Regions from separate parts of the Homo sapiens genome. Here all the other regions are linked to region 2. Evidence: fine-mapped expression QTL. A gene starts in region 2. Each other region holds a variant in brackets. All regions are shown on one strand. Distances are from middle to middle.

The links.
Region 1: its variant is fine-mapped to the expression of VNN2 in blood mononuclear cells (TOPMed, PIP 0.98).
Region 3: its variant is fine-mapped to the expression of VNN2 in blood mononuclear cells (TOPMed, PIP above 0.99).

Annotation. Positions count from the first base shown.
Region 1 is chr6:132,714,128-132,725,197 of GRCh38, reverse strand. It overlaps the pseudogene VNN3P. Among named protein-coding and RNA genes, the nearest start is that of VNN1, 5.6 kb to the right of the region's middle. The variant T/G (reference allele first, on the strand shown) is at 3,497.
Region 2 is chr6:132,752,304-132,763,373 of GRCh38, reverse strand. It overlaps VNN2 (vanin 2), which reads left to right and starts at 5,470. Exons shown (of 7, transcript NM_004665.6): 1 at 5,470-5,703; 2 at 5,828-5,958; 3 at 7,339-7,531; 4 at 10,625-10,913. The coding sequence starts at 5,491. RefSeq lists enhancers at 1-4, 2,934-3,123.
Region 3 is chr6:132,727,215-132,738,284 of GRCh38, reverse strand. It overlaps the pseudogene VNN3P. Among named protein-coding and RNA genes, the nearest start is that of VNN1, 19 kb to the right of the region's middle. The variant T/A (reference allele first, on the strand shown) is at 8,619.

The sequences.
Region 1 (11,070 bases), 38 kb after region 2:
AAACTATGCCCCCCAAGTCAAATGATAATTTCAGTGCAAGTAGTACCTTATGGAGGACACAGAGTCAAATTGGAACTTAGGCCAATGTAACAGCTATCTCCTTAACTATCTTGAAAATATGCTTTAATAACTTTGTATTTAACTTCACATGGGAATATTCTATTAGTTGGTCACCATAACAAATCTGAAACCAATGTTTGTATTTATGTTGCTTGTAGGGAGTGGAATCTACGCCCCAGAAGCAGTCAAGGTGTACCACTATGACATGGAAACAGAGAGTGGTCAGCTGTTGCTATCAGAACTGAAGTCTCGGCCCCGCCGTGAGCCCACCTACCCTGCAGCTGTTGACTGGCATGCGTATGCCAGCAGTGTCAAGCCATTTTCCTCTGAACAGTCAGATTTTCTGGGGATGATTTATTTTGATGAGTTTACCTTCACCAAGCTTAAGAGAAATACAGGAAATTACACAGCTTGCCAGAAAGATCTGTGTTGTCACTTAACTTACAAGATGTCTGAGAAGCGAACAGACGAGATCTATGCCCTAGGTGCTTTTGATGGACTGCACACAGTAGAAGGCCAATATTACTTACAGGTAGAAATGCTTTAATATGTTAAAGTGGCCTTATTATCAGTTTTTCTTCTAGGTCATCATTGCCTTTCTTTGAAAATTGGGCTGGATTTAGCTAATTTTATAATTAGTAATGTTATATTTATCTCTGAATTTTGTCCCCAGAACACATTATTTGTTCAGTCTTAGCAAGAACAGAATTAGTTCTTTTAGTTGAAAGGCAAAAACATAAAGCAAATTGATTAGTTCTCAGCAGGCCAGGTTCAGGTTTCAAAAGCTGCAATTTCTGTGTATTCTCTTTTCCCGTCAGGTTACTTTAGAGCAGTGTTTTTCAAATTGTCTTCAACTAAATCCAGAGAAAGAAGGATATTTTACCTCATAACCCAGTGTAGCCAAGTGGATGTGTGACTGAATAAAAAAAAAGATATTTAATTGAAATAGTTTATGAAATAATTTAAAATAGAATTAGAAATAGCTATTATTATGTGCAATGCACTCTGATTTTTAAAATCCTAGTCTATTCTATTTGACTTCAGTATAAAAAGTGTTAATCCTGACCCACTATATTGACTTTAGGATTCATTAATAAGTTGTTACCTGCAGTTTGAAAAATACTTCTTATGAGGCAATTTAAATATGCATTTATAGTTTGAAATTGCATTATTTAGCTGAGAAAATATTTGCAAGTTTTCTGACTCCTTCTCTTTTCTTTTCTTCCATAGATATGTGCATTACTGAAGTGTCAAACCACTGACCTGGAAACGTGTGGAGAACCTGTGGGGTCAGCTTTTACCAAGTTTGAAGACTTCTCCCTCAGTGGCACATTTGGAACGCGTTATGTTTTCCCACAGATCATTCTAAGTGGGAGTCAGCTTGCCCCTGAAAGACATTATGAGGTAGGAGGTGTGCAGGATGATAAATTCCTTTGAGCAGAGTAGATGGGTAGAGCAGCATAATGAAAATCTTTGAAATAATGAGAGTATAGCAATATCGTGGTTCACATTCTACAAGAAACACCTTAAATATGTGGAAACTATGATATGGAATATAAATTGTGGTTTTAGATTGCCATTAGGCTGTGATGGAGAATTTGGGGTTCATTTTTTTAACATAAATGTGATGTTGATATTCAAGGCAACAGGAAATTCACAGAGAAGCTAAAATAAAAATGTTGACTGCTGATAATGGCAATAATGTTGTCATTTGCATGGTGTAGAAGGTGCAAATTAAATACATTAAATAATGCATCTACAACTTATTTTCTGGGTATACTATTTTGAGAAGTTGTTATAATTATAGTAATAACTAATATTTTGTATAGTGTTTCATGAGTTTGAAGAACATATTTTTATACATATTATTTGACCACCTGTGCAACAAATTTGTTGGCTGCACTTTCGCACAAAGTCCCTCTACTTTCAGACTTGAAACATGAACCTGGGTCTTCCAACACCAAATCCTGTGTGATTTTTACCATTCTACACTGCTTTAGGAGGGAGTGATCTTGCCTGAGAAGGGCTCTAGGTTGTAACCTAAACTCTGCACTGAAGTTAACCCTTTGCTTTCTTTGACCAGATTTCAAGAGATGGACGCTTGAGGAGCCGAAGTGGAGCCCCTTTGCCTGTCTTAGTTATGGCCCTGTATGGAAGAGTGTTTGAGAAGGACCCTCCACGCTTAGGGCAGGGATCTGGGAAATTCCAGTGATCTCCTTTAGCAGAGCCCTTTTAGGATTAGCCTGGCTAAGAAAGGAAGAAAAAAAAGAGATCCGTTAGTGTCTGTTTAGAAAAGATGTTATAAACTTACAGAAACAAATATAATAAACTGAAGCAGATTTGAAAAGCAACAAGTGTGTGTGCAAATTTCACATTTTACATGTTTGGTATAGCACAGGTTCATTTATGGGAGCCGCATTCATCCTCCATGTATGTGAGTTTAAGTATATGTAAGTATGTATATGTATAGTGGAGCGTATATTTAAATAGGAGGAGGTCCTAGAAAAATCCTTTTGCAGTAACTGCACTAATGTATGCAAGTGTTGTTTCCATCATATGATGGTTAATTTTATGTGTTGATTTGACTGGGTCATGAGATGCCCAGATAGCTGGTTAACCATTGTTTCTGGGTGTGTCTGTGAGGGTGTTTCAAGGAAGAGAACAGCATTTGAATTGGTGGACTGAGTAAAGCAGACGGTCCTCCCCAGTGTGGATGGTCATCGTCCAGTCCCTTGAGGGCCTGCAGAGAAAAACAAGAAGGAGGAGGTTTGAATTCATTTTCTGCCAGACTACTTGAGCTGGATAGAGATCTTCTCCTGCCTTCATGTGCTCCTGGTTCTCAGGCCTTCAGGCCTGGACTGGAATTGACACCATCAACTCTTCAGCTCTCAGGCCTTCGAATGACACCCCTGGCTTTCCTGCATCTCCAGCTTGCAAATGGCAGACCAGACTGTGGGATTTCTCAGCCTTCATAACTGTCTGAGCCAATACCTTATCATAAATCTCTTTCTCTCTCTCTCTCCTGTTGGTTCTCTTTCTCTGGAGAACCCTGACTAATGCACTTCATTTGTAAATACATAGGATGAACTTTGAATATGCAGAGGGTATTTGATTCCAGCCAATTAAGATACAGGAAATTAAAGAATAAGGACATCTTTTAAAGTAACTATGAACAACTTTTTAGCTAGTATTGTCCCTTTAGTCATGACTAATTTGACTCCTAAGTTCTATTTATATGGAAATTGGATACTTGAAATGGATTTTTTTTTTTTTAATTTTTTTGAGACCGAGTCTCACTCTGTCCCCCAGGCTGGAGTGCATGCAGTGGCACAACCTCGGCTCACTGCAGCCTCCGCCTCCCTGTGTAGGGAAAAGAAAGAGAGATCAGACTGTTACTGTGTCTGTGTAGAAAAGGAAGACATAAGAAACTCCATTT[T/G]GAACTGTATCCTGAACAATTGTTTTGCCTTGAGATGCTGTTAATCTGTAACTTTAGCCCCAACCTTGTTCTCACAGAAACATGTGTTGTATGGAATCAAGGTTTAAAGGATCTAGGGCTATCCGGGGTGTGCCTTGTTAACAATATGTTTACAGGCAGTACGCTAGGTAAAAGTCACCGCCATTCTCCATTCTCGATTAACCAGGGGCACAATGCACTGCGAAAAGCTGCAGGGACCTCTGCCCAGGAAAGCCGGGTATTGTCCAAGGTTTCTCCCCACTGAGAGAGCTTGAGATATGGCCTCTTGGGATGGGAAAGACCTGACCGTCCCCCAGCCCGACACCCGTGAAGGGTCTGTGCTGAGGAAGATTAGTAAAAGAGGAAGACCTCTTGCAGTTGAGATAAGAGGAAGGCCTCTGTCTCCTGCATGCCCCTGGGAATGGAATGTCTCGGTATAAAACCCGATTGTACATTTGTTCTATTCTGAGATAGGAGAAAACCGCCCTGTGGCTGGAGGCGAGACATGTTGGCAACAATGCTGCTCTGTTACTCTTTATTACACTCTGGCCTACATGCACATCCAGGCATAGTACCTTCCCTTGAACTTATTTGTGACACGGATTCCTTTGCTCACATGTTTTCTTGCTGACCTTCTCCCCACTATCACCCTGTTCTCCTGCCGCATTCCCCTTGCTGAGATAATGAAAATAGTAATCAATAAATACTGAGGGAACTCAGAGACCGGTACCCATGCGGGTCCTCTGTATGCTGAGCGCCGGTCCCCTGGGCCCACTATTCTTTCTCTATACTTTGTCTCTGTGTCTTATTTCTTTTCTCAGTCTCTTATCCCATCTGACGAGAAATACCCATAGGCATGGAGGGGCTGGTCCCCTTCATCCCTGGTTCAAGTGATTCTCCTGCCTCATCCTCCCAAGTAGCTGGGACTTCAGGCACACGCCACCACATCTGGCTAATTTTTTATATTTTTGGTAGAGATGGGGTTTCATCATGTTGGCCAGGCCAGGCTGGTCTTGAACTCCTGACCTCAAGTGATTTGCTATCCTTGGCCTCCCAAAGTGCTGAGATTACAGGTGTGAGCCACAGGGCCAGCCAAAACAGAAATTTTTTGAAAAATAAATTAGGTCAGCTGGGTGCGGTGGCTCACACCTGTAATTCCAGCACTTTGGGAAGCTGAGGTGGACAGATCACCTGAGGTCAGGAGTTTGAGACCAGCCTGGCCAACACTGTGAAACCCCATCTCTACTAAAAATACAAAAATTAGTTGGGGGTGGTGGTGCGTGCCTGTAATCCCAGCTACTCGGGAGGCTGAGACAGGAGAATCACTTGAATCCAGGAGGCGGAGGTTGCAGTGAGCTGAGACCGCATCATTGCACTCCAGCCTGGGGCAAGAAAAGCAAAACTCCGTCTCAAAAAATAAATAAATAAATAAATAAATAAATAAATAAATAAAATAAATTATGTCGTTCAGATCACATCTCATTTCCTTCTGAAATTATTCTGTTCTGAAATCTACCCAATCTTGGTTGAGCCCTTCTCAGTGGTCAGGGGTTTATTGCAGGCTGTGCCAGGCTGGGAGCTTCCTAGACAGGACCACCATGTCACCTTTTCCCCAGATACCTCTGGCCCACTGTCTTGGCTCTCTTAGTCATTTTTCTGGTTGGTCACTGATTAACTCTGGAAAGAGATATGCTGAAGAGCAGCTGGGTTCTCTGGGTTATGTAGGAGACACCTCTTTGTCCACAGAATGTTTGACAAACGCATTTCTGAACTTTTCCTAGGTGTTTATTTCCACCTGCTATAATTCAGTCCAGTACCAGTAAGTCAGAGATATTCTGGGTGGCAGAAAATGCACTCGGTTTCCCCCTCCCATTTTTCCTGGATTCTCTCTTCAGGGACTATCACTCTCGGATCTTAGGTTTGTGCCCCCGATTCCTCTGTGTGCAGTAGGTGGGCATCTTCCCTCTTTATCGCCTTACATTTGTTCCTTCTAGAATTCTTTCTTCTCTTTCCTAAGCCAGTTGTCTGTAGGCTGCATTATGTACTCTGGTTGCCCCAGCTTCCTTGGCACCTCTCACCTCATGGCATTTTTATGTAAGCTGACTCCTGCCCCCCTCTTTATTAAAAGGAACTTTAAAATCAAATCTCGGGGCAGGCTACCATAACTCACACCTGTAATCTCAGCACTTTGGAAGGACAAAGCAGGCAGATGGCTTGAGCCAAGGAGTTTGAGACCAGCCTGGACAATATGGCAAAACCCTGTCTCTACAAACAATAACAACAACAGCAAATTAGCCGAGTATGCTAGTGTGATCCCAGCTACTGGAGAGGCTGGGGTGGGAGGATCACTTGAGCTCAGGAGTTGGAGGATTACTTGAGCCCAGGAGATAGAGGCTGCAGTGAGCCAAGATTGTACCACTGCCCTCCAGCCTGGGCAATAGAGTGAGACCTTGTCTAAAAAAAAAAAAGTCAAATCTCATGGTCAGTTCTCAGCTCTTACTAAGCCTGTACTTCTTGGAGTAATTTTACCCCCCACACTTTAATGCCTTTCGCTTTTTATTTTCGTTGACCTTTTTGTCTCTTCTCCCTCCTCCAACCACATTTATTTTGTTTGTCATTGATATAAATGATGCACTCTGCTAGACTCAGCTCTCACAGCTGTATCTTCCTTATCTAAAATCTTTCTATGGATAGTGAAGCCACTCTTATGGCTTTAATTAATATTTCTGATACAGCAGAGTATAACTCACTGGTAAACAAAAAAATTTTTTCTTTCATGAGAGCAAGTTCAAGCCACATCATCATGTTTACAGGCTACATTAACAATGCAAAAATAGTTTTATTAAGTCCTATGCAGAGATATGTATTATTGTAACATTAGCAACTTGTGATATTACAGTTCCTGGCTTATAACTCCCATATCCTTTGTTAGGGTTTTTTTTTTGTTTGTTTGTTTGTTTTAACATTAGGGGGTTTTAGGCCTCAGGAGCAGGCCTCATGAAACAGAATCTCCCTCTCTGACCTTACCCTGTCCTCCCTTTACCTACCTAAGGCAGGACTATAATCTGATTGTGGCTCAAAAGACCCTCATTTCAGAGAGGGTCCCACCCCATACCCTAGAGGAAGAAATGCTATAAAGAGATGTCAAGACAAACCTGAACAGACAAGCTTTACTGGGTTTCCCCACTCAAACTGTTAGTATGGGATCATAACCTTTTTGTCCAATCGCATTTCTACATGGTTGTCAATCGTGACTATGTAATGAAGCTTCCATAAAAACCCAAAAGGACAGGGTTCGGAGAGTTTCCTTACAGCTGAACACGTGGAGGGTTCCTGGAGGGTGGCACACCTAGGGGTGCGTGGAAGGCTCTCCAGTCCTTCCCCCATACCTTGCTCTATGCACCTCTTCATTTGTATCCTTTGTAATATCCTTTACAATAAGCCACTAAAGGTAAGTGTTTCCCTGAGTTCTGTGAGCCACTCTAGCAAACTAATTGAACTAAAAAAAAAAGGGGTCATGGAAACCCCAACCCAGAGCCATTTGGTCGGAAGATCTGGAAGCCCAGACTTGTTACTGGTGGGAAGGAGGGGGCGGTTTTGTGGGACTGAGCCCTTAACATGTGGGATCTGATGCTATCTTTGGATAAATAGTATTTGGATTGAACTGGAAGATAGCCAGCTGATGTCTGATGCAGAGTCAATTGCTTGCTTTCTAGTGGGGAGAAATCTCCACCTACTTGGGAGTAACCAGTCTTTTGTGTTAGTTGTTGTGCTATGAGACCAGAGGAAAAATGGATTGTTTCTCCTAAAACCAGATTAATGTCAACAAAAGAATTGACATTGTGTTGTAGCCACTAAATATTAAAATATGGGCGTATATTTTGAGTAGCAATGCAGAGGCCGACTGCCAATCAATCTTTTATCAGACACAAGTATATGGACACACTTTTACATGCTGTGCACATGGCTTTTCAGAGTTCACCAGGTGAAGTGCAAGAGGCAGTGCCCACTCCACTCAGTCCTTGCTCTTCCCTCCTTTTCCCTTGTTTCTGGTTCTCTCTGCGTAAGCTGGGCAGGACTTGCTTCTGAGTTCCTCTGGGGACCTGCTGCCTGGGGTGGGGTGATCACTGCTGTGCTAGCAAAATCCAGAATACTGTGGGTCTTGCCCTATTCTGGACAGTGCGATGTCATGTTTTCCTTGCAAAAGGCAATCTGCTCCATCTATGCAAGTTTGGTTGGAGGAGTCTGGAGGTATCAATTAGGGCTTTTGTCTACACTCAAAGTCATTTCCTTGGAGACAATTCTCCCAGTTTCTACTTTGTGTGAGCAGAAGGGCTGCATTTGGGGACCTTGGCTGGCTGTAGCAGTAGGGTTAAGGATCCAGAGAACCAGCCTAGGAGTTGTAGTAGAGGCTGCTGGTGCCTCCCAGTTCCATGTCCTGCTGATGATACTCTACTGCAAGAACTGCACTGTTTCTATTTCTATTTCTTTCTTTCTTTCTTTCTTTTTTTTGAGACGGAGTCTCACTCTATCACCAAGCTGGAGTGCAATGGCGCAATCTCGGCTCGAGGCAACCTCCGCCTCCCGGGTTCAAGCAATTTTCCTGCTTCAGCCTCCCGAGTATCTGGATTATAGGCGCCCCCGCCCCCCACACTGCTCCCTTCCATGCCCAGCTAATTTTTGTATTTTTAGTAGAGACAGGGTTTCTCCATGTTGGTCAGGCTCATCTCAAACTCCTGACCTTTGGTGATCCTCCCGTCTCGGCCTCACAAAGTGCTGGGATTATAGGCATGAGCCACCGCGCCTGGCCGAACTGCATTATTTCATCTGAAGATTTGCTCTCAGCTAGTACATGCTAAGTAGGCCAGAAAGGGTAGATTCATGTGGCAGTGACATGCTGGAGGAGGGACAAGGTTATTGGTCCTATGATTTAGTCTCAGTCTTTTAGTGAGCCTGTACCCCTGGGTTTATGAACTTCACTTGGCTTTTTTCTTCTGCCATTAGTTGGCATAAAAACAAGCTAGAGATGAGATTTTCCCTTTCCCCAAGTTAAAGATTAGAGTGGCTGGGGTTGGCATTTTTCCTTCCCCTAGGTAGGTTAGGCTCTGGTAAAATACTTTACTTTGAGGGCAGGCTTTTGTTAAGAAGAACAGACCAGAACTCTCAAGGTTGTCCACCCTGAGCCTCCACCAATTCGTCAATTACAGTTCAAGTGAACCCACGGTACTGGCGCCAGCCGCAGAGGACTCTGCTCGCAGTACACTCTTAACCTCTGTATCTGCCTATCTCTGCAGTTCTGAGGACCGCAGTTTATCCTGTGATCTCAATTCTCTGATGCATCCTAGAAAAGTTGTCGATTTTCATTTGTTTAGCTTTTTTCTTGGTGTGAGCATGGGAAAAATGACTGCCAAGCTCTTTATGAGTTGGACTAGAAACTCCACGGGAGGTTTAATATTTTTAATCTAAGAAGGTCAAGAAGTAATTTTTTAACCTCTTGCCAACTCATCTCAGTTTTAACTTTTATTTCAGTGCTTCCTTTTACAAATTGTTACATAATAATGACATCTTTTTGTGAAATATGTGGTATTCCCACCCACCTGGGCATGGAAAGGCCCTAAGAGGTCAGCAAGCAGTTAGAGAAGCTGGTGTTTACCGGAAACTCAGGAGAACCAGCCAACCACAACCCCTGGGTTACCTTGGCAATTGCAGAATAAATGCATTATAGTTACTAAAGTAAAAAATTAGATATGCCTGTTTGCAGATTGAACTATAAAAATACCATTCAAAGACAAATAGATCTAAAAATAAAATGGAAAAACATAAACACTAATTCTGTAAATATTATACTTAATGCACAACTGAAACAAAATTTGCCAGCTTACTCAATATCAAAATCTATGAACAGTTTTTCTATTTTATATAATTTCCCTCTCCTCTCTCTGGATCTCGCTCCCCAGCTCATTTTTTCTTTTTTTTGCTCTGATTCTTTATACACCTCTGTTGCCTCTGTGATAAGCAGCTTCAAAGATGGTTCCTAATGCTTTATTGGATAGAATACAACAAAAGCGATGAGGTGTTGCTTCCCCAATTACATTACGAAGCATCCGTGGCTTCCATCTCCAGTGGGTTCACTTGCTGTCTGGCTCTAAGGGAATCCAGATACCATAATGCGGGCTGCCCTATGGTGAGGTTTGCATCACTAGGAACTCATGTCTCTGGGCAACAACCAATGAGGTCTTGATCCCTGCCGTCAGCCACATGAGGGAGCTTGGAGCTCGGAAGTGAATCCTCCTGGAGTCAAGCCTTGATATAGCTAGCCCTGGCAGCTGCTTGACTGCAGCCTTGTGAAAGAGACCTTGGGCCAGAGGCACCAGCTAAACTGCCCCTGGATTCCTGACCCAGAGAAAGTGGGAGATGATGTATTTTTGCTTTTTGAAGCTGCTGAATTTGGGGATAATTTGTTATATAGCAATAGAAAATGAGTAACTCTTTTGTATTCCTCTTTGTCCTGGCTTCCCCATTTTGAGGAAAATAAAGTAAATCAAAGTGTAGAGCTGAAATATTCACATGAAAATAATAATAAAGTTTTAAAATTATTTGAATGTCTTGTGTTGACATTCCAAAATATATGAATTCCAAAAATTTATATGTTGAAGTCCTAACTGTCAGTATCTTAGAATGTAACTTTTTTGGAAAAGGGGTCATTTCAGATCTAATTAGTTAAGATGAAGTTATACTGGAGTACAGTGGGCACTAAATCGAATTGGTCCTATGATTGAGTCTCAGTCTTTCAGTGAGCCTGTACCCCTGGGTTTATGACCTTCAGTTGGCTTTTTTCTTCTGCCCTTATTTGGCATAAAAACAAAGCAGGTGGATCACCTGAGGTCAGCAATTTGAGACCAGCCTGCCCAACACGGCGAAACCCTATCTCTACTAAAAATACAAAAAATTAGCCTGGCGTGGTGGCGGGCGCCTGTAATCCCAGCTACTTGGGAGGCTGAGGCAGGAGAATCACATGAACCCGAGAGGCGGAGGTTGCAGTGAGCCGAGATTTCGCCACTGCACTCTAGCCTGGGTGACAAGAGTGAAACTCCATCTCAAACAACAACAACAATAAACAAACAACAACGATGACAAAAAAAGCTAGAGCTGGGATTTTCCCTTTCCCTGTGTTAAAGATTAGAGTGGTGTCCTCACAAAAAGGGAAAACTTGGATACAGGCACACACATGGGGAGAATAGCATATGAAGAGACACAGGGAGAAGGCAGCCATCTATGGGTCAAGGAGAGAGGCCTGGAACACATCTTTCCTTCACCGCCCTCAGGAGGAACCAACTCTGCTGACACCTTCATCTGGGACTCCCACCCTCCAGAACTGCAAAGCAATAAATTTTTTATTTTTTACACCACCCAGTTTATTGTATTTTGTTAGGCAGCCCTAGCGAACTAATGTACATAGAGTTCTTGAGTTAATCTTCACAAATTACTGCAATAAGGTAGGGTCTTTTGTTATGTAACAATGCTATGAAATCATAGCGTTTTCTTAATTAACTTCC
Region 2 (11,070 bases):
TACCTTGGGCTGCAAACATTATTTTTTCTTTGCTTCCTTGCTCACTGAAAATAAACAAGTGGCATTATTGGTGGATTGCTGTGACATTCTCATATTGATCAATAAGACATAAACTTTTCTATTTTTAATCTATCTTTTTTTTTTTTAAGTCTGCGATTTCCATGATATTTTCTTACCATACCCTTTCAAACGCATGTCTCTCCAACTGCCTACATAAATCAACGAGTGACTTGGATCCAGTTCCTGTGGATTTATTTCTGTGGTGACAGTCATCCCGACTTTACCAAAAGCTTTTAATTCAGTCAAGAGAATTTTTAATTTTTTAAAAGGACCGGCTGGTGAATGCAAGAAACTTTTGGCAGGGTTAATAGACTGGCATAGTGGGTGGACCTATGAGATTAATATTGTTAATATTTTATTTTAAGGAAGCAGGAGCTGTCGGAAAGTAGGGGAGGATGCTACTAACTCAAAGGGACTTCTGCAACTTCAACCCTAAGTTTCTGAGACAGGAAAACAGACATGTTGGTTGAACCATGTGAAATTACTTTTGCTAGGTCAAAAACAGTGATGATTGGCAATTTCATGTTGCACAAGCATTTCCATCTAGCAGTGCTTTCAGAGAATCCAAGGCTGTGATATATCATTACCTTCTCAGATTTGCTCTGGTTTCAGCTGTGTTCATTAGCTATCTGAAGCATTGAACACCCATCCAACTCTAAAGCTGGAAGATTACCTCATCTGAATGAGACCTGGCCCCAAAAGATGGTTAAAGTTCAAGCTGGTTCTTTTCAAGGCAACCTTGCCTTTTACAGGGCCTGACTCAGTCTCACTAAAGCCATATGTAATACTCCAATGGTGTAGAGACAGAAACGTTTTTCTTTGCCATTAAGTACTTTTTTTGGATACAGTATTGTACTTTTTTGGTATACAGTATTAAGAGGAACAGTTTTAACACTGGAGCCTGGCTTTTCTGCCTATTGTTGCTTCTTATTCTTATTTTGACGTGTCACCCTTGCTGCCTGTGAGAATGTCATTGATAATAATACATGATATTTCCCATTCTTTGTTTCTCAGTTCACTTGTCATTTTGCATTCAGGAGAAGGGACAGAACAGGAAGTCCAGTAGCCAGTGTCAGAGCCTGGAGCAGCTCCTCTCCTTCCTGGGGTTGAGTTCCTTGGTTTTCTTGTTTCACCTTTGCTACCCCACTGCAGTTTTTCTACCACGCTGGGTTTAGCACGAATCAGGAGTTGATGCCCAGGTACCCTGTCAACCCCATTTCATTCCAGCAGTTCTTCAGCACGGTCATCCAAATAGACTAGAATTTGAATTGAACAACAGTAGTTCTGTGGGCCTAACAATGAAATAATATTAAGCAGTCAGGATATTATATTACTAAATAGTCACTCACTTTTGTTAATTATTGTCATCTGCGTTGTAGTCTTACAGAGGACTTTCACATATCTTTAGGAGATAGAGCAGGTATGATTACCTAAACTTTTAGATGAGAAATAGAGGTCCAAAGAAGTGGTGCAAAGCAGAAACTACACCCCTATGCTTACTCTTGAGAAAGTGGGAAAAAAATGAGGTTTTTAAAATTAAAGACCTAAAACCTAGTCCAATTGAACATTATTCTAACAGATGATCAGATTCACAATTAGAAACAAATATTTGAGCTATTACTGTTTTTCGTTTATTTGCTTGTTTTTTATTTTTGAGACAGAGTCTCACTCTGTCACGCAGGCTGGAGTGCAATGGTGCTATCTCGGCTCACTGCAACCTCCTCCTCCTGGGTTCAAGCAATTCTCCCGCCTCAGCCTCCTGAGTAGCTGGGATTACAGGCGTCTGCCACCATGCCCAGCTAGTTTTTGTATTTTTAGTAGAGACTGGCTTTCACTATGTCGGCCAGGCTGGGCTCGAACTCCTGACCTCAAATAATTCGCCCGCCTCGGCCTCCCAAAGTGCAGGGATTACAACCATGAGTCACTGCGCCCACCCCAATACTGTTTTTTTTTTTTTTATGGTGACTCTTTGACCAAATAATTTTTAATTGATTTTAACTTTTTACCCCTTTAGCTAAGTTCATTAATCCCAAAATGGCAAATTAGGAAGTAGGCTCTTTTAGCAACGAATTACAATTAATCAATGTTCCCTGTGGCAAAATAACCTTACTTTATTTTATAATTCAGTTAAACTAAAAATTTTAATCTTTACCTGATCAATCATCTTTATGAAAAGTCAACTATTGAAACTGTATGTCCTGAATTTGGTTTTTTACTTCTGAAGATTTAAAACAATATCAATGACCTCTACAGCAAATATTTTCTTCACATCTCAGGGATTTTCCTATATTTAAATTGCTCCTTCATTTACTAACTTCTAATTCTTTTTTGCAATTACCTTTGTTACTCAAATTCTCAGTTTCAATGAGACAATTTTTAGATGCTTCAAATAAAAAAACAAAGGAGGGAATTTAGTCATCTTGATTTTATATCAGAAGTGATTTTCCCTTTCCCTGTTAGCCAAACAAAAAATCCAAAACTCTGATCAACATCATTTCTATCTTTTACAGCCAAGGACAGAGAAAAACATCCAGATTTGGGAACACAATAACAGATATGATTGTCCCCACTTCTACTGCCAAAATTATAAAACTGTTAACTCCTCCTCATCAGCTTACCTGACTACTTAAAAGCAAAAGAGTTAATTAAGTATTACTAATTGGTGATACTAGATCAATGAAGGTAGGTCATGGCCCAAATTGTACTTATGGAGATGGAAGAGCTTAATTGTTTTTATTAGGCATCAACTGCATCAGAAATTTCATTAGCACTTAGCAAATTTGCCTATGGTCTTCTTAAGGTGATCATTTTGAATTGGGTTCTTTAAAAGACATGAATGACTGGCTGCAGTGACTGACACCTATAATCTCAGCACTTTCAGAAGCCAAGGTGGGTGGATTGCTTGAGCTCGGGAGTTTGAAACAAGCCTGGGCAACATGGTGAAACTTCCTCTCTACAAAAAATAACAAAAATTAGCCTGACATGTTGGTGCGTACCTGGTGTTCCAGCTACTAGCGAGGCTGAGGTGGAAGGATCACTTGAGCCTGGGAGGTGGAGGCTGAAGTGAGCCATGATCATACCACTGCACTCCAGCCTGAGCAATAGAGCAAGACTCTGTCTCAAAACAAAAAAACAAAAAACAAAAAAACCCCAAAAGACACGAGTGTTCAGACACTCAGTTGCAGACATTAAAAGAGAGCACAGACACATGTGCTGTTTTAGGTATAAAGGAAAGACTCTGGAATCAGGAATGAGAAGCGAACATCCTGCTCTGTCGCTCTAGCTCTCTATGCCTCAGATTCCTATCCTGTAATAAGTGGGCATTTGGGTTACATGATTTCTAAACTCTAACAGCACTCATAATCTATTATATACCAATCACCTATGCTAATTTACTAATTATACACTAGATAGTATGGTTATATACTAACAGTCTATTATACAATCTGCTAAAAATTCATAAAAATATCTATCCCTTTACATTTTCCACAAAAGGGCTTGACCATTTTTCCTGAATTATTTTTAGTTTTCTGCTCTATAGAGATAAGAAAAGTTATTCCTTTAATAGAAACTTCTATTCAAAGCAGAAAATATGAGCAGATCTTATTTATAGCCCCTAGGCCCCATTCTTAACAAAACATTTATCTCAGTAAGAAGGAAAGCACAGAATAAACTTTGTTTAATCGTACCTACTCTTCTATGCTGTCTAAAAGCATTTCCGTGACTTTTACCAAAGGGCTGGATAAAAATAAAACAAATCCTTTATTTGGCAGGATTGGGCCTGGGGAAGGGAGAATATGAATGTCCTAAGAAGGCATCTGAGATCACATCCTGTATTTGTTGTTATTATTGTTTTTTTTTTTTTTTTTTTTTTTGAGACGGAGTTTCGCTCTGTCGCCCAGCCTGGAGCGCAATGGTGTGATCTCAGCTCACTGCAGCCTCTGCCTCCTGGGTTCCAGCGATTCTCCTGCCTCAGCCTCCCGAGTAGCTGGGATTACAGGCGCCCACCACCACGACCAGCTACTTTTTGTGTTTTTGGTAGAGATGGGGGGTTCCACTATGTTGGCCAGGCTGGTCTTGAACTCCTGACCTCAGGTGATCTGCCTGCCTCGGCCTCCCAAAGTGCTAGGATTACAGGCATGAGCCACTGCACCTGGCCTGTTAGCATTGTTTTTAAACTCATTGTTGTTATTTGCTGCTAACAAAAATGTAAGTTACATCTTCTCCTTATTACAACACAGATGATCTTTATCACCAATCCTGGACTCTTCCCCTTCCCTGGCATCTTCCTCCAAAGCAGGGGGTGGGGAGGGAGGAAAAAGAAGGAGGAGAAGGAGTAGGAGGAGAAGGAGAAGTAGGGGGAGGATGGGGAGGGAAGGGTGAAAGAGAGAAAGAAGGAAAGAAGCGGAGTATCCTGAGGCCTGGGGCCCCTGAGCTGAGATTCCTCCTCTGGCCTAGGTGCCTCGGGGTATTGTTGCTGTAGGCACTAACTATACAGCAGTGAACAAACCAGACACAAAATCCTGCTTTTCTGGAGCACATGTTTTCAGTCCTTAATAGCAATAAGTAAGTCAGAGTGTAGATTTGGGTAAATTTTGTTATCAATATTGTCCTGTGTTACATTTTCTTAGTAGTAAGTATTTAATATTTTCCCCCCCGTCTAAAAATAAACACAATGTAAGTGACTCAACAGAACCAAAAAAATTGTTGTCAATTTTTAAATTTAATAAATGAGATATTTGTTGGGATGTGATTTTTTTACACGAGAGTTAGTTATGAGTTTCTATTAACAAAAGCTGGAATTGTTCTATATTTGAATTCGGGTGTCTTTTGGAAATTCAATATTAAATCTTAGTACTAATAGTACATGCTGTTCAATCCCTGTAATACTTTCTGATTGTCTTAAATGGACTGCAACTTTTCTTTCTTTAAAAGTGGTCAGATATATTGCGTTCTTAAGATTATAAAGTAGGCCAAGTGCAGTGGCTCACGCCTGTAATCCCAGCACTTTGAGAGGCTGAGGTGGATGGATCACAAGATCAGGAGTTTGAGACCAGCCTGGCCAATATTGTGAAACCCCATCTCTACTAAAAATACAAAAATTAGCTGGACGTGGTGGCGCGCACCTGTAGTCCTAGCTGTTTCAGAGACTGAAGAAGGACAATCGCTTGAACCTGGGAGGTGGAAGTTGTAGTGAGCTGAGCTTGCGCCACTGCATTCCAGCCTGGGTGACAGAGCAAACTCCGCCTCAAAAAAAAAAAAAAAAAAAAAAAAGAAGAAGAAGAAGAAGAAGAAGAAGAAGAAGAAGAAGAAAAATGATGATAAAGTAAAAGGCCAGTAACTGGCAGCCACATGTTATGCAAACATTCTCCCCTCTGTAAATACTACATGAATGTTATTTTTGCTTTCAGAAATCACTAAACCTTGGCCATGGTCACTTCCTCTTTTCCAATCTCTGTGGCAGTTTTTGCCCTAATAACCCTGCAGGTTGGTACTCAGGACAGTTTTATAGCTGCAGTGTATGAACATGCTGTCATTTTGCCAAATAAAACAGAAACACCAGTTTCTCAGGAGGATGCCTTGAATCTCATGAACGAGAATATAGACATTCTGGAGACAGCGATCAAGCAGGCAGCTGAGCAGGTATTCTCTTATTTCTGTTAATCATAATGTACACGAGGGGCATGGGAGCTGGTGGAAGACGAGAGAGCTGAATTGTCTGTGTTGTACATGGAAAAATCATTTTTATTTTGCTTGTTTTGAACAGGGTGCTCGAATCATTGTGACTCCAGAAGATGCACTTTATGGATGGAAATTTACCAGGGAAACTGTTTTCCCTTATCTGGAGGATATCCCAGACCCTCAGGTGAACTGGATTCCGTGTCAAGACCCCCACAGGTATTTTAACTATCTTAGTCTTTTGTGCAAAAGTAACTCTCTAAAATGCGCACGTTCACCAAAGCAAAATGATTGCTCTTGAATTACCATATATGTGGTATATGTTATGGTTATATTTATCTCAACATTTGTCAGATTTTAAAAAATTGTACTTAGATACTATTTAACAATCTTTTGTGATTGAAAATCTTTATTAAATTTTGAGAAAATGTGTAAATAGGGTATTCCTGCAAGAAAAACTAAGGGAAGAGATCTCATAGATACAAGTAGTAACTTAATTTCTGAAGTAGACAGTGGATTGTGTTAGGAATACATTCCAAAGCCTCTGCTGAAGGGACACCCTTTCAATGTTATAGAGTCTCTCCATTCCAGAGTTGCTTCTTAGGCAGAAAGACTTCACCATGTATTTTCAAGTGAATCATAAGACCTTATGCTTTGAAACTGCATTTTCCTAGGCTCACAAATCTAATTTTCCTGGGAAAAGGTTATCTAGAAACCTTCTAATATATATTAAAAATCTGGGTCCTACTGTCATCCTGGAGGTGTCAACGTGGCAGTTGCATGGACAAGTCTGGCATGAAAAGACAAAATTATATCTGGAGATAGAAAATCAAATGTCAGCATATAGATGGTGTTAAACACCATGATGAGTTCACCTGTGGAGTGAGTTAGAGAAGAGTTTAGGTATAAGGCTTGAGCACTAGGAAATTCTAGTGTTTAGACTCGGAAGAAAACGAGGAATCAGCAGAAGAGTCGAAGAAGAGCAACCAATAAATAGGAAAATGAGAGGGTGGGTCCAATAGAGAAGTGAGGTGTTTCCAGAAGGAGGTGTAATTAACTGTGCCAACTGCTGTTGAAAAGTTAAGATGAGATCAGGTAAAATGTGGGGGTCACTGCTGGCATTAGTAAGAGTTTGGGTGATAGAGATACAAGTTGGAGTGCTCTGAAAGGGAATGGGAGAGGAGGAACTGGCAACAGCAAGAGGGACTGATCTTTTGAGGAGTTTTGCTTTAAGAGAGAGATGAGGATTAAAGCAATATTTGGAAGGGCATGTTTGGAAAGGTCAAAAGAGGTTTTAATTTTATTTTTTAAAGATGGGAGGTACTAGAGGATATTTCATTGCTGATGGGATGTTTCAGTAGAGAGGAGACCCTTGATGAGGCAGGAGACCGAATAATGAATTTCTGGAGCAATAGATACCGTGTGGGAAGCATTCATCAAGTGTATAATCATCTGTGGCTTTTAAAGTATGATATTTTTAGGCATAGTTTTTGTATTAACTTAAGTTCCACTTAAGTGGTTACAGTTGCTATCGTTTCCATATAAAGTGACTAAAATATTTTTTTAAAATTGAAATTTCTTAATTATAATTTGGTTTAGATTTGGTCACACACCAGTACAAGCAAGACTCAGCTGCCTGGCCAAGGACAACTCTATCTATGTCTTGGCAAATTTGGGGGACAAAAAGCCATGTAATTCCCGTGACTCCACATGTCCTCCTAATGGCTACTTTCAATACAATACCAATGTGGTGTATAATACAGAAGGAAAACTCGTGGCACGTTACCATAAGGTAAGAGAGAGTGACGGACGTGTAAAATGGAGCGTGTTGTGAGTGGTCAATGCTGGGTTTAGGAGTTTGAATTTCATTCCCTATATGATACAATATTACTAGAGGGTTTTTTTGTTTTGTTTTGTTTTTTGTTTTTTGAAAGTGGGCAATAAAGAAAATGACACTTTTGGCTGGGCGTGGAGGCTTATGCCTGTAAGCCCAGCACTTTGGGAGGCTGAGGCAGGTGGATCACTTGAGGCCAGGAATTTGAGACCAGTCTGGCCAACATTGTGAAACCCCGTCTCTACTAAAAAATACAAAAATTAGCGGGGCGTGATGGCACATGCCTGTAGTCCCAGCTATGTGGGAGCTGAAGCAGGAGACTTGCTTGAACCCAGGAGGTGGAGGCTGCAGTGAGCCGAGATTGTGTCACTGCACTCCAGCCTGGGTGACAGAGGGAGACTCTCAAAAAAAAAAAAAGAAAAAAAAGAAAAAGAAAAAAGAAAATGACACGTTGTAAAAAACTACTCAGAAAAACATGTAGGCAGAGAACTGTTAAAAAAAAAAAAAAGTAGCATGATGGTCCAGGATTGAGATAAACTTTTTGCACATATAAAACAAATAATTTTAACATAAAAAAAGATACTAAGGTGACTATAATCTGGGCACTGTTTCAATAATTTTATATTTTTTTAGAGACAGGGTCTCACTGTTGCCCAGGCTGGAGTGCAGTGGAGCCATCATGGCTCACTGTTAACCTCAAACTCCTGGGCTCTAGTGATCCTCCTGCCTCAGCCTCCCAAGTAGCTGAGACTGTAGGCATGTGCCACCATGCTAATTTTTAAATATTTTTTTGGAAACAGAGTCTCACTACATTGCCCAGGCTGTCTTTGAACTCTTCACCTCAAGCAGTCCTCCCACCTTGGCCTCCCAAAATGCTGAGATTAGAGGCATGAGCCACTGAGCACAGCCATAATCTAAATACTATTTAATATTGAAATGGTAGAAAGATGTTTCAAAATTGTATGAATCAGCTTTGCATAAGTTAATTTGCTATCAAACCACAAAATACCTTATTTTCTACACCAGCTAATTTAATTACCATCTTATAGATTTAAGATCAAACCATAAAATGTTTACTTTAAATTCTGAATTGAAAAAAGGAATCAAATAACCTTTAAGTCATAATTTTATACTAAACTAGGTAGAGAAAGAAGCCTGGCCTTTTAAATGGATATGTGTGATGTACAGGCAGTATGAATGTCCCTTCTCCACACCCAGATATTTTGTAAGCATCTTAAACTGTAGCCTCAGAATCTTTGGAGTGGAGAAATTATCTCCTGGCAGTCTCAGTTAAAATATAAATATTAATTAAGAGGAGGGATGTTAAACCAATGGTTTTCAAATGATTTCGATCATGGACCCCTATTGGAAAAAATCGTTAACATAAGTCCTCAATATATGTATTTTTGTGTGTGTATTTATAAAGTGCAACAATTTCAAAATGCTTTCTTCATAATTTTGTGGATTTTGACAGCTTCTTTTCATATATATCACTGCATTTCACTTTCTTCTTAAAATGTGTCTCATAGTAAAAATAGAAAGGTCAGTGCTTCCATTTTCTTGCTTGGGAGATTGTTTGCATTATTTGTATTATCTTTCAATGCAGTTTATTTGCAGTAATCATTTGAAGCTATTCTGCCATTCTGTAAATATGCAGGATGGCACAGTGCACTGAATGTGGACAAACTAGCAAGGAACCTGCAGTCACCCTGTCTAAGTTGAAAGGCTCTCACTCTTCCCTGAGGGTACCTCAGGGACCGTTTGTAACCCATGACCTCTGACATATGTGAACCTAATGAGAATACCTTTGTCGATCAATTCCTTTTTTTTTTTTTTTTTTTTTTTTTTTAGGCAGAGTCTGGCTCTGTCATCCCGGCTGGAGTGCAATGGCACGATCTCAGCTCACTGCAACCTCTGACTCCCAGGTTCAACCCATTCTCCTGCCTCAGCCTCCTGAGTAGCTGGGATTACAGGTGCATACCACCACACCCGGCTAATTTTTGGATTTTTTAGTAGAGATGGGGTTTCTCCATGTTGGCCAGGCTGGTCTTGAGCTCCTGGCCTCAAGTTATCTGCCTGCCTTGGCCTCCCAAAGTGCTTGGATTACAGGCATGAGCCACCTTGCCTGGCCTGTCAATTCTTAAAATAGTAGTAAAGCCCAATTTCTTTTCTATTTTTTAGATATTTTTTCTACACTGCAGACCATTTTATTAACTGTTGATTCCATTTATTATATTAGACTAAGTTTTTTTTTAGTTTACCTAGAAGGAATCGGGAAATTAAATACATTTCTATGGTAATTTTGAAAGGTGGGCAAGAGTCACTGAGATTACTTTGGATGGGACACTAAAGAGAGAGATGACATCTCTCACCTGACTTACAGGTATTTATTATGCATCTATTAATATTACGTTTCTAGGCACCAAGGATTCAAAGAAGAATAATGCATGTTTTTTAACTTTTAAGAAGCTTATAGGGCCAGGTGCTGTGGTTCATTCCTGTAATCCCAGCACTTTGGGAGGCCCAGGTGGGTGGATCATGAGGTCAGGAGATTGAGATCATCCTGGCTGACACGGTGAAACCCCGACTCTACTAAAAATACGAAAAAATTAGCCGGGCATAGTGGCACGTGCCTGTAATCCCAGCTACTCGCTTGAACTCAGGAGGTGGAGATTGCAGTGAGCCGAAATCATGCCACTGCACTCCAGCCTGGGTGATAGAGCGAGGCTCCGTCTCAGAAAAATAAAATTAAATTAAATTTAAAAAAAGCTTACGGACTTTGGGGTTTATGGGGGGGTATTTGGCTCTTAACTGAGAGAGAGGGAAAGAGAGAGAAGGGAGAGAGAGGAGATGAGAGATGCTATGGACGTATGTTACATATTCCTCCACATTTTCCTTAGAAATTTACTTCCAATTGCCAGATTTATCCGCTTCCTAGGAGATTCCCTGCAGTTGACCATAGCCAAATCTGTTACCAACTTAGAGGGTTTTTATGAGTCATTTCTTCAACAAATAAGGTTTTACTGGTTTTCTCCTATCCATTTGTTGTAGTACCACCTGTACTCTGAGCCTCAGTTTAATGTCCCTGAAAAGCCGGAGTTGGTGACTTTCAACACCGCATTTGGAAGGTTTGGCATTTTCACGTGCTTTGATATATTCTTCTATGATCCTGGTGTTACCCTGGTGAAAGATTTCCATGTGGACACCATACTGTTTCCCACAGCTTGGATGAACGTTTTGCCCCTTTTGACAGCTATTGAATTCCATTCAGCTTGGGCAATGGGAATGGGAGTTAATCTTCTTGTGGCCAACACACATCATGTCAGCCTAAATATGACAGGTAATTCATGACCAGGTTAGGTTTCATCTTATATTTTTAAGTGCAGAGAAATGAATGCCTCAGTTATGACTTGTATTAATTTTTTGCTTATTGGAAATTCTTACTGTGTTTGTCATAGTTTCACAATAGAAAAAAAAAGCTAGCACTTGATTATAAG
Region 3 (11,070 bases), 25 kb after region 2:
CAAGGAGTACATACCATCGTGGAAAGGAATTTTGTTATAAAATAAAGCTGAGAAATGGAGCAGGAATTGGAAGGGGATGTCAGATCAAAAGGCTTTTTTTTTTAAGATAGAAAATGTTACAGGATAGTTGTAGAATATATAATAGGATATTTGTGTTTTCTTTATTGTATCCAATAGAGAAAGAAAAATTGATGATAAACAGTAATGGGGCTGGGCACGGTGGCTCATGCCTATAATCCCAGCACTTTGGGAGGCCGAGGTGGGTGGATCACTTGAGGTCAGGAGTTCTACACTAGACTGGCTAACATGGTGAAACCCTGTTTCTACTGAAAATACAAAAATCAGCCAGGCATGGTGATGTGCGCCTGAAAGCCCAGCTACTCGGGAGGCTGAGGGAGGAGAATTGCTTGAACCTGGGAGACGGAGGTTGCAGTGAGCCAAGATTGGGCCACTGCACTCCAGCCTGGGTGATGGAGCAAGATTCCATCTCAAAAAAAAAAAAAAAAAGGCCGAGCATTGGTGGTTCACGCCTATAATCCCAGCACTTTGAGAGGCCGAGGTGAGCAGATCACTTGAGGCCAGGAGTTTGAGACCACCCTGGCCAACATGATAAAACTCCATCTCTGCTAAAAATACAAAAATTAGCCAGGTGTGGGGGGCAGATGCCTGTAATCCCAGATACTTGGGAGGCTGAGGCAGGAGGATCTTTTGAACCTGGGAAGTGGAGGTTGCAGTGAGCCAAGATTATACCACTACACTCCAGCCTGGGTGGCAGAGTGAGACCCTGTCTCAAAAACAAACAAACAAAAAAATAAACAAAGTAAGAGAGAAGAACTTCTAGAGCAATGTCCTTGGGATCCAGTGCTCAAAGATAGGGGCTAGACTTAAGTAGGGTCAAGAGGAGTCATTTACAGTAAGGATGGGGGGAGGCAGAATTTACAGGTACAAATGGCTGGCAGGTGGGTTGATACTTGGTGGGAGCTTGTGGAAAGGAGTTCTTTTGAGTTGGATAAATAGGCCTGAAGTTCAGAACGGAAGTTTGAGCTAAAGATAGAGACACAGTCATTATCCTTTTGTAGAAGATAGTTGAAGGTATGAAGTAGAAAAAAACCTGGGGCCAGGGGAGAGGGTAGAGTAAGGGACTGAAAGACAGTGAACAACAATGTGGCTACTGGCCATAAGTGCATTAAGAGTTTAGAGAAGGGAATAGCAACAAGACTGGAGAGGCAATGGATTTGAGCTCGAAAGGCAGGATTTGGTCAGAATCATTCCAGGATCAGAGCAACAGTGATCATGTTACAATAAGAAGAGTACTTTTAGCTAAGAACACAAAATATAAAATGGAACCAAGAGAAAGAAGGCTCTTACTGTCTGCTTTGATTCAATATATGCATGGGAAGTATCTTAATTAATGACAGCAATGGTCAAGGGAACTCTAATGGATTACAGTATTGAGGGTTAGGGTGGGAGGAGTGGGATCAGAGAGGCTGATGGAGAGCCTGAAAGAATTCTTATTTATGGGGTCAGGAACTTGATAAGGAGAATGGAGAGGAGGTTTTACAATGAGTTTAGAAATAAAGATTTGGGGAAAGCCAGTAAACTCTTAGATATTTTATTACAGCACCTCTCCTTTAAGATGTGTCCCTTACATATTTAAAAGAAGAATTATATTTATTGTAATACAAAACTTCTGACTCTAAACTTCTTAATCCTACAATAATGCCAGACTGTCATAAGGATTATGTACCAATACAGTGTTTCAAATAACTCATAGCTGCACGCCTTATACACCTAGGAAGCAAAGACATTACTAACAACATTGGGTAATCAAATATTTAACTCAAGTTTCTATTGATTTCAACACACAAAAAAAGCTGGTACATTTCCTGGAACTAGGGGCTGGGAGAATGAAGGGGAATTCCCATATGTTTCCTTTTGATTCTATTCAGAAAGTCAGGTGAACCAAGAAAAGAGTTAGAATTTCAACTTGAAATATGAAAATTATTTTCTTCTCATCCCAGATCAATCCATCTGTTTTACATAGTTTCCCTCTTCTCCTCAGAAATTTTTTTGGAAAAGAACTTATGTCTGATGTCTGATGAAAACAATTTATGTCAGACATAAACTCAGAATTTAGGGCTGAATTTATGTTCATATGTCCTTATTTCCTGAAATGGTATCAGGGCATAAGGACATATGGAAACACTGTGGGGTATCTGGGAGCAGAAATATTTGGATAATGGAAAAGTTTATTGAAACCAAGGGACTTTGAATTATAGAAACAAACCAAACCCAAAATAGACACAAATCTCCATAACTTACAATTTTCCTTAGATCTTAGAAAGAATCTCAAGAGGGAGAAGCAGTGTTAATTGTTCTAGAATCAGAGATTTAAACCTTAAAAAAAATTCTACATTTTAAATTAACTGATATTCAAACAAGGAGATTCAATCCAAAATTGGGCGAGGGAAGTGAATTTAACTAATCAAAAAACATTTACAGAGCTTAGCACAGTATAAAATTCTATAGAAGCAGCAGAGAATTATAATGTGACCCTGCCCTTAAGGGACTTATAAGGATGATATGTTTAAAAAATAAAAGAATTAAAGGAGAACTTAACACTTTTTGAATTATTGATTAGTCTTCATATGGAAGCGGGTTTAAACTGTAGAAGACAGGTAAAGTAAATTGCATCTCAATAACAAGAATGTTCTTAAAATTGGCAATGTTCAAAGGTGGAATAGACTGGCCCATCAGGTAGTAGATTCCGTCATTCAACATTCATTCATATATTGAGCTTTCACCATCTGTCACACATGTGCTGGGGTGATGAGGTTCAACAGTGAGCAGGACACTTCCCTTACCCTCCAGGGGCCACATCCCAGGATACATCATCTCTGTCTAGATGTTTATTGGACATGGATGTTCTGAAAGAAAACAGCAAGTTTCTTTTTAATCTCTTTAAGAAGACAAAACATACATATATAATATTAAGTATTGGTATAATATTTAAATTAAAGGTCAAGACAACAGCAAGGAGTGAGAGACATTCAGCAGCACAGAAAAAAATGCTATAGGAGTTCAGAAATATCACTTAGGACTGGAGTGGATTTGGGAGGACTCTAGGGGGAGCTGGAACTTAGACGGATGGAGAACAAGGGCTTTTCAAATAGAAATGGCCATACAAATATGTAAGTAGAGTGCTCAACAAATTGTTGCTATGATGACTACCTTCCAATATTGGCCCTATTAATAGAAATGTTGGCTTACCAGGAAAATTTTTTTTTATTAGAAAAGACTTCAACTGCCAGTGTGTTTTGGACTGGGGTGAATTCATCTGGTTGGCTCAATCTTTTAGTGTTGACTTGACTCTGAACAATGTCAACAACTGCACTGTACACTTGAATCAATCCAATTACGTCCTGGCTGTCAGTTTTCTTGCACAACATCCTTTCTCAATGCTGTGTTGTGTAATATATGTGCAAGAAAATATAAACAGCTGATTGCCAGGAGGGATTTAATGTAAAGTTTTTCCAGTGAAACAAAACGTAAGAATCTGAGTTTGTTTTTCAAAGATCACTAAATTTTAGTTATGATTATATCACATTTTCCAAAATGTGTGGCAGTTTTTGCCCTCCTTGCTCTGAGTGTTGGTGCACTGGACACTTTTATTGCTGCAGTATATGAGCATGCGGTGATATTACCAAACAGAACAGAAACACCTGTTTCAAAAGAAGAAGCTTTGCTCCTGATGAACAAGAACATAGATGTTTTGGAGAAAGCAGTTAAGCTGGCAGCGAAGCAGGTATTACCCTTTTATACTTGTAAAGGAGACTTGCAGTTTGGTCAAAGAGTATTTGGAATTCATGACAAACTTTTTTGCCCCACTTGTTTCGAGCAGGGTGCACATATCATTGTGACCCCAGAAGATGGAATCTATGGTTGGATCTTCACCAGGGAGAGCATTTACCCCTATCTAGAGGATATACCAGACCCTGGAGTGAACTGGATTCCATGTAGAGACCCCTGGAGGTAATATCATATCATTAATTTCTAAACAAAAAGTTGTGATTTGGTAAAACACCAACAGTAAACTCACTGAATTTGACTGGTAATTGTGTTGATAAATAGTCAATCTGTGGCATAGGATGTAGATGCTTTTTTTTCCCTGTAATTTCAACTTTTAGCTTAGATTGAGGGAGTACATGTGCAGGTTTGTTACATGGGCAAATTGCATGACGCTGAGGATTGGGGTACAATGATTGCACCACCCAGCATAGTATACAACAGGAAGGTTTTCAGCCCTTGCCTTCCTCTCTCTCTCTCCCCTCTATTAGTTCCCAGTGTCTATTGCTGTCATCTTTATGGCCATGAGTTCCCAATGCTTAGCTCCCACTTATAAGTGAGAACATGCAGTATTTGGTTTTCTGTTCCTGTGTTAACTTGCTGAGGATAATGTCCTTTGGTGCTGCAAAAGACATGATTTTGTTCCTTCTTGTGGGCACCTAGGTTAATTCCATATCTTTGCTGTTGTGAAAAGTGCTGCGATGAACATACAAGTGCACGAGTCTTTTTGGTAGAATGATTTCCTTTCCTTTGGGTATATACCTAGTAATGGGATTGTGAGTCGAATGGTTGCTGTGTTTTAAGTTCTCTGAGAAATCTCCAAACTGCTTTCCACAATGGCTGAACTAATTTACATTTCCACCAATAGTGTGTAAGTGTTCCCCTTTCTCCATAGCATCTTTTATTATTTGACTTTTTGTTAACAGTCATTCTGACTGGTGTGAGATGATATCTCATTGTGGTTTTGCTTGGCATTTCTCTGATGATAAGTGATGTTGAGTGTTTGTTCACGTGTTTTTTGGCCACTTGTATGTCCTCTTTTGAGAAGTGTCTGTTCATGTCTTTTGCCCACTTTTCAATGGGGTTATTTGTTTTGTTTTTGCTTATTGATTTAAGTTCCTTATGGATTCTGGATAGTAGACCTTTGTTAGATGCCTAGTTTGCAAATATTTTCTCCCATTCTGTAGGTTGTCTATTTACTCTGTTGATAGTTGCTTTTGCTGTACAGAGCTCTTTAGTTAAATTAGGTCCTACATGTCAAGTTTTGTTTTTGTTGCAATTGCTTTTGAGGACTTAGTCATAAATTATTTTCCAAGGTTCATGTCCAGAATGGTGTTTCTTAGATTTTCTTCTAGGATTCTTATAGTTTGAGGTCATACATTTAAATCTTTAATACATCTTGAGTTAATTTTTGTACATGGTGAAAGATAGGGGTCCAGTTTCAATCTTCTGCATATGGCTAGCCAGATATTCCAGCACCTTTTGTTGAATAAGGAGTCCTTTCCCCATACTTATTTTTGTGAACTTTGTTTGAGCTACAGATGGCTGTAGGTGTGCGGCTTTGTTTCTAGGCTCTCTATTCTGTTCTATTGGTCTATGTGTCTGTTTTTCTAACAGTACCATGTTGTTTTGATTACTGTAGCCTTGGGTAATGTGATGCCTCAGGCTTTGTTCTTTTTGTTTAGGATTGGTTTGGCGATTCAGGCTCTTTTTTGGTTCCATATGAATTTTAGAAATTTTGTTTATAAATCTGTGAAAAAATGACATTGGTAGTATGTTAGAAATAGTGTTGAGGCTGGGTGCTGTGGGTCATGCCTATAATCCCAGCACTTTGGGAGGCCAAGGCAGGTGGATTACTTGAGATTAGGAGTTTGAGACCAGCCTGGCCAACGTGGTAAAACCCCATCTCTACTAAAATACAAAAATTAGCTGGGTGTGGTGGTGTGTGCCTGTAATCCCAGCTACTCGGGAGGCTAAGGCATGAGAATTGCTTGAACGATAGAGTGAGACTCTGTCTCAAAAAAAAAAAAAAAAAAAAAAGAAGAAAAGAAATAGTGTTGAATCTGCAGATACTGCTTATGTTTCATAGTGTATATCATCTGGCATATCTCCTGTTTGGTAAATGACTTGAGATACTGATGACTAGTTGGTTATTTGTTGCAATTGTCTTTCAACAATAGTAGGTGTGACCAGGCGTGGTGGCTCACACTTGTAATCCCATCACTGTGGGAAGCCAAAGCAGGAGGACTGCTTGAAGCCAGAAGTTTGAGACCAGCCTGCGCAGCAAAGCCAGACCCTATTTCGGCAAATAAAAAATTTAGCCAGGTGTGGTGGCTCACACCTATAATCCCAGCTACTCGAGAGGCTGAAGCAGGAGGATCACTGGGGCCCAGGAGTTTGAGGCTGCAGTGAGCTATGATTGCACCACTGCACTCCAGCCTGGGTGACAGTAAGACCTTGTCTTAAAAAAATAGTAGGTATAGGCCGGGTGTGGTGGCTCACGCCTGTAATCCCAGAACTTTAGGAGGTGGAGGTGGGCAAATCACCTGAGGTCAGGAGTTCGAGACCAGCCTGGCCAACATGGTGAAACCCCATCTCTACTAAAAAATACAAACATTAGCTGGGTGTGGTTGTGCATGCCTATAATCCCAGCTACTCGGGAGACTGAGGCAGGAGAACTACTTGAACCCAGGAGGCAGAGGTTGCAGTGAGCCGAGATCACGCCACTGCACTCCAGACTGGGCAACAGAGTGAGACTCCATCTCGAAAAAAAAATAGTAGGTATATACACAATTTTTATAGTAAATGTGTTTAATTGGGTTTGAACAAAGTGAAAAAGTTGGAATATCTAGAACCTGTGTCCCAAATACAAGTAAGTTGGTTCATCCATGGACACCTGCCTCCTTCACAGGAAGAGTAAAAAGATGAATGAGCCTGTTTCCAAAGAGCTTTGCTATCACTGTCATTCAGAATGCAATCAATATGGCCAATGGAAATTGTATAGGACTTGAAAAAGGAAGCCCTACTTCTGGGACCACATTTTACGACCACCTAGCTGAGTGATGTAAGCGTATAACCTAAATGCTTAACATTTCTGTTTCATTATCTGTAAAACAGGGATAATAGAGTCCCTTAATTCTCTTACAGATCAGACAAGAGTAATGAAGTAATACACATGGAATTTGTACATTGTGATGCACTCTCCAATGCTAGCTGTCACTATTCCTTTTTTTTTTTTGTTAACAGAAGGGACTGAGTCTGAACTTCTTTGTGTTCTTGTCCTTTGAGAGACTTTAGTAATTATTAGTAGATGTAATTTAGGCATAACTTTCTTAAAGAAAATATGCATAATAAATATGATATCTGTGAAATAGATTATTTTAGTTGTATTAACTTTTAAAAATAGTTTAAGATTATTTCTTTAAATGGCAAAATTGATGGGTTAAGAAGTCATTTAACTTGCTAATTTTAAATTTACATGCACCTGTTTAGAACTACACCTATTGTGCAAAAAGAGAAACTTCTTTGATAATTTTACCTATGTGAAATTAAGTGGAAAGTCATGCTTAATGGTACAACATTCAGGCTCAGCTATGTGAGTCAAACCTCACTCTGGGATTTTGCCCTTTGGAAAAATATTCTCTAAACATTGCATGGTCTGTGTTTACAGAAACCATGTCACTATGATTCAACATCTACTTGCTTATGAGGCGTTTCCCAGAACAGGAAGGAATCATTATTTGCTGCAGTTGATGAGGCTTACACGAAAATGTACTGTATTTGACTGGGCTAATGAAACTGACTTTTCCAGGGAAAATATATCCATAAATTTGATAATTAGCTATCGATAAATTATTTTAAGTTGGGAAAGTAGGTGACTGATGAAATGTCAACATTATGAACTCTTACACCTACTTATTCAAATGACAACGTTTCAGTTTTGTGTTACAGAAAGGAGAAATCCAGTATTTAATATAATGATAATATTGGAAAAGAAAGTCAGTTTTCTCCCTGGTGATATTTATCCCTGAAGAGAATAGTAGAGAGGCATGCGGTCATCCTTGTGCATTTAAATATTTAGAATGCTGACATGTCAAACAGTTCCATGGGCTTTTTTCACGAGTAACTAGTAGGAAATATTAAATAACTCAAATTATTTAGTCAAGAAAAGAAAAATTAAACAAAGTACATGATAAAGTTATTAAAGGTCTTAATGAATATGAATATTAATAGTACTTCTCTGTTTTTTTTAGAAGAAAATAAAAAGAAAAGGTCTAAACCAGTAGGCCATTAATCTGTCCTTTTTATTCAAAGGTTAGTTTAACCTCAATTGCAGAGGGGCTGTGAGTTCATAGAGAGACATGGAATGGCCTCTAATCACACAATCCATAATAGCAATTTTCATTTACTGAGCACTTACTTGGTCCCAAGAACTGTACCTGGTATACTATACCCATTATTACATTCAATTTATGTAGTTGGCATTACTATTTGCATTACAAATATGTGAAAAAAGGAAGGCTTATGATCTCATGATTGATCATTAGATTGGCTGGAATTAAAACAGCTATGTCATTTAACTGTGCTAACGGAATGGACTCTAAGGGCCTAGATGAACCATATTATAATAAAATTTTTAGTGACTAGCAAATCCACTTATTTAACAGAGTGAGCTGGTTGCTAAACATTTTTTGTCTTATTTTCTGCTGAAATCTGCCTCACTTTAACTTCCTTTCGTCTTTTTCCTGCATTCTATGCTATGTTCACACATA[T/A]GACCCATCTCCTATAAATTAAGCCTTTCAAATATTTGAAGCCAGCTATCACCATGCTACATTCTCTTCTTATACCAAGGATAAATATCTTTAATATGGATGGACTTGGTAAAACAATTTCATGTCTGTACTTATCTCAGGATTTCTCATGTGGATCCACTAAGGCAGAAAGGAAGCTATTGTTTTACATTTGACAGATGAAGAAACTGAGTCAGTACAGTGAAGTGCTTTTTATTTTTTATTTTAATTTTTAACATTTCCACTACTTACAGCTATATTTGTTTTTTTATAGAGACAATCTGGAGGGTACAAACTATTTACTGTCACCTGGCATTTCTGTTTCCAACCACATCTCGTATCAGCAACCTTGTACAAATTATGGCTTGGATTATAGAAAAGGTCCTCTCCATTAGCAGAATCTGCTAAATTTCAAGTGCTTCATATATCTTCCTGGGAGCACTTCATAAGAGAATGTGCTGCTTCTTTTCATCCTCCTCTTCCTCTTCCATCTTTTCTTTCCTTCAGTCTTGTACTGTAATCTGGAGTTTGGCATAGTAAATTAGGTTAGCTTTCAGGAAGATAAACACTGTATCACATGAGAGTTTTAAAATATTTTCTGTTGATTCTTGACCTAGAGCTGTTGTGTTATGGGCAATGGGCAAATAAAGTATCACTTTGGTATTTCAGAAATCACTAAAATATAGTAAGTTTGAGGAAATGTCTATTGAATTAGATTCGGCAACACACCAGTGCAACAAAGACTCAGCTGCCTGGCCAAGGACAACTCTATCTATGTCGTGGCTAATATTGGGGACAAGAAGCCATGCAATGCCAGTGACTCTCAGTGTCCCCCTGATGGCCGTTACCAATACAACACTGATGTGGTGTTTGATTCTCAGGGAAAACTGTTGGCACGCTACCATAAGGTGAGCATCACTTGTGCCTTAGCTCAACTTGTTACTTCTTCTGTGTGCTTGTGGTATGTATGTGTGTTTGTTTGTTGAATGTTGGGGAGAGAACTGTTATAGATGCATCTTATAATTATTACATCATAGTTGAAAAGGAGATTTAATTCAGTTCCATATAACCGTTCTGGGTTTGCATTTATCATAAAACAGAATATGGTAGAGTATTTAAATGGATGTGACAATAGCCACACAAAGCTTTTAATGTTCTCTGAAAAAGAAGTAAACATTCTGTTTCATTCATGATTTAATATCAGGTTCATTTTTTAGCCCAATTTGTTAGCATTTCATACTAAGCTACCATGTATTCCATTAGGACTTTTTTGATTGCAATGAAAACAAAACCTCAAATGAAAATGGCTTTAAAAAGATGGAAATTTCCTTGCTTATGCACATGTAAAAATGTGTATCATAGAAAGGACAGGTCTCATTTCAGTGCAGTCTGACACTCAGAGGCTCCAAAGTTATCATCCACCCCTCTAGCTCTCCTAGCCCTTTGTTACAGCTTCTTTCTCAGGGGAACTCTCCTTTTAGAAGCCACATTGCTGGAGCAACACGAAATTCACATCTTTATCAACAAAATCTACAGGAAGGGTGTATTTCTCCCTCCTAGAACCTTGCAAAGGCCTTATCGCTCCTTGATTCAATTAGGTGACGTGCCTTTCCTGAGCTAATCACCAAAGGATGAGGGATAGGCTGCCACATGGGAGGAGAAAGGAGGAGCAAGAGGCCTCCATGGACCACAGAGGTGGGAAGTAGCTCTCCCCAGAGCACACACATGCACACAACAGGCCAAACAAAAACCTGAGCAAAACATATGCTGTACTCCTGAGCCCAGGTTAAGTGGAGTTTTGGAAAAAGAATCAGGCTGAAAAATAAAATAAAATTATGAATGGCTTACTAATTAATAATATGTAGCAACTGCATTGTCTAAATTAATTTTCAATGGACTTCACTTCTATAAACCTGGCAGTATCATTGGGACACATGACAAAGTTTATTTTATTAACATAGTAGTGCTGTTGAAATTTAAAGAATATAGTGGAAAACAATCTGAGAAGTGTAGGATTCAAGATTTCAACCTGTGATTTTAAGATACACATTTTCACATTTTAAATATCATTTGTACATGTGGTTTCATTCATTGGTTGTAAAAAAAATAAAGTTTTTTTATTAATGTCACAGTAAGAAAATGTATAGATGGTGGTATAGTGGGGATGATTTTTACAAATGTATATGTAACAGTTTTATTTTGTTGTTGTTGTTGATTTTGGAAATGGAATCTTGCTCTGTTGCCCAGGCTGGAGTGCAGTGGCGCGATCTCGGCTCACTGCAACCTCGGCCTCCTGGGTTCAGGGGCTCCCCCTGCCTCAGCCTATGAGTAGCTGGGATTACAGGCATATGCCATCATGCCTGGCTAATTTTTTTTGATATTTGTAGTAGAGACAGGGTTTTACCACATTGGCCAGGCTGGTCTCGAACTCCTG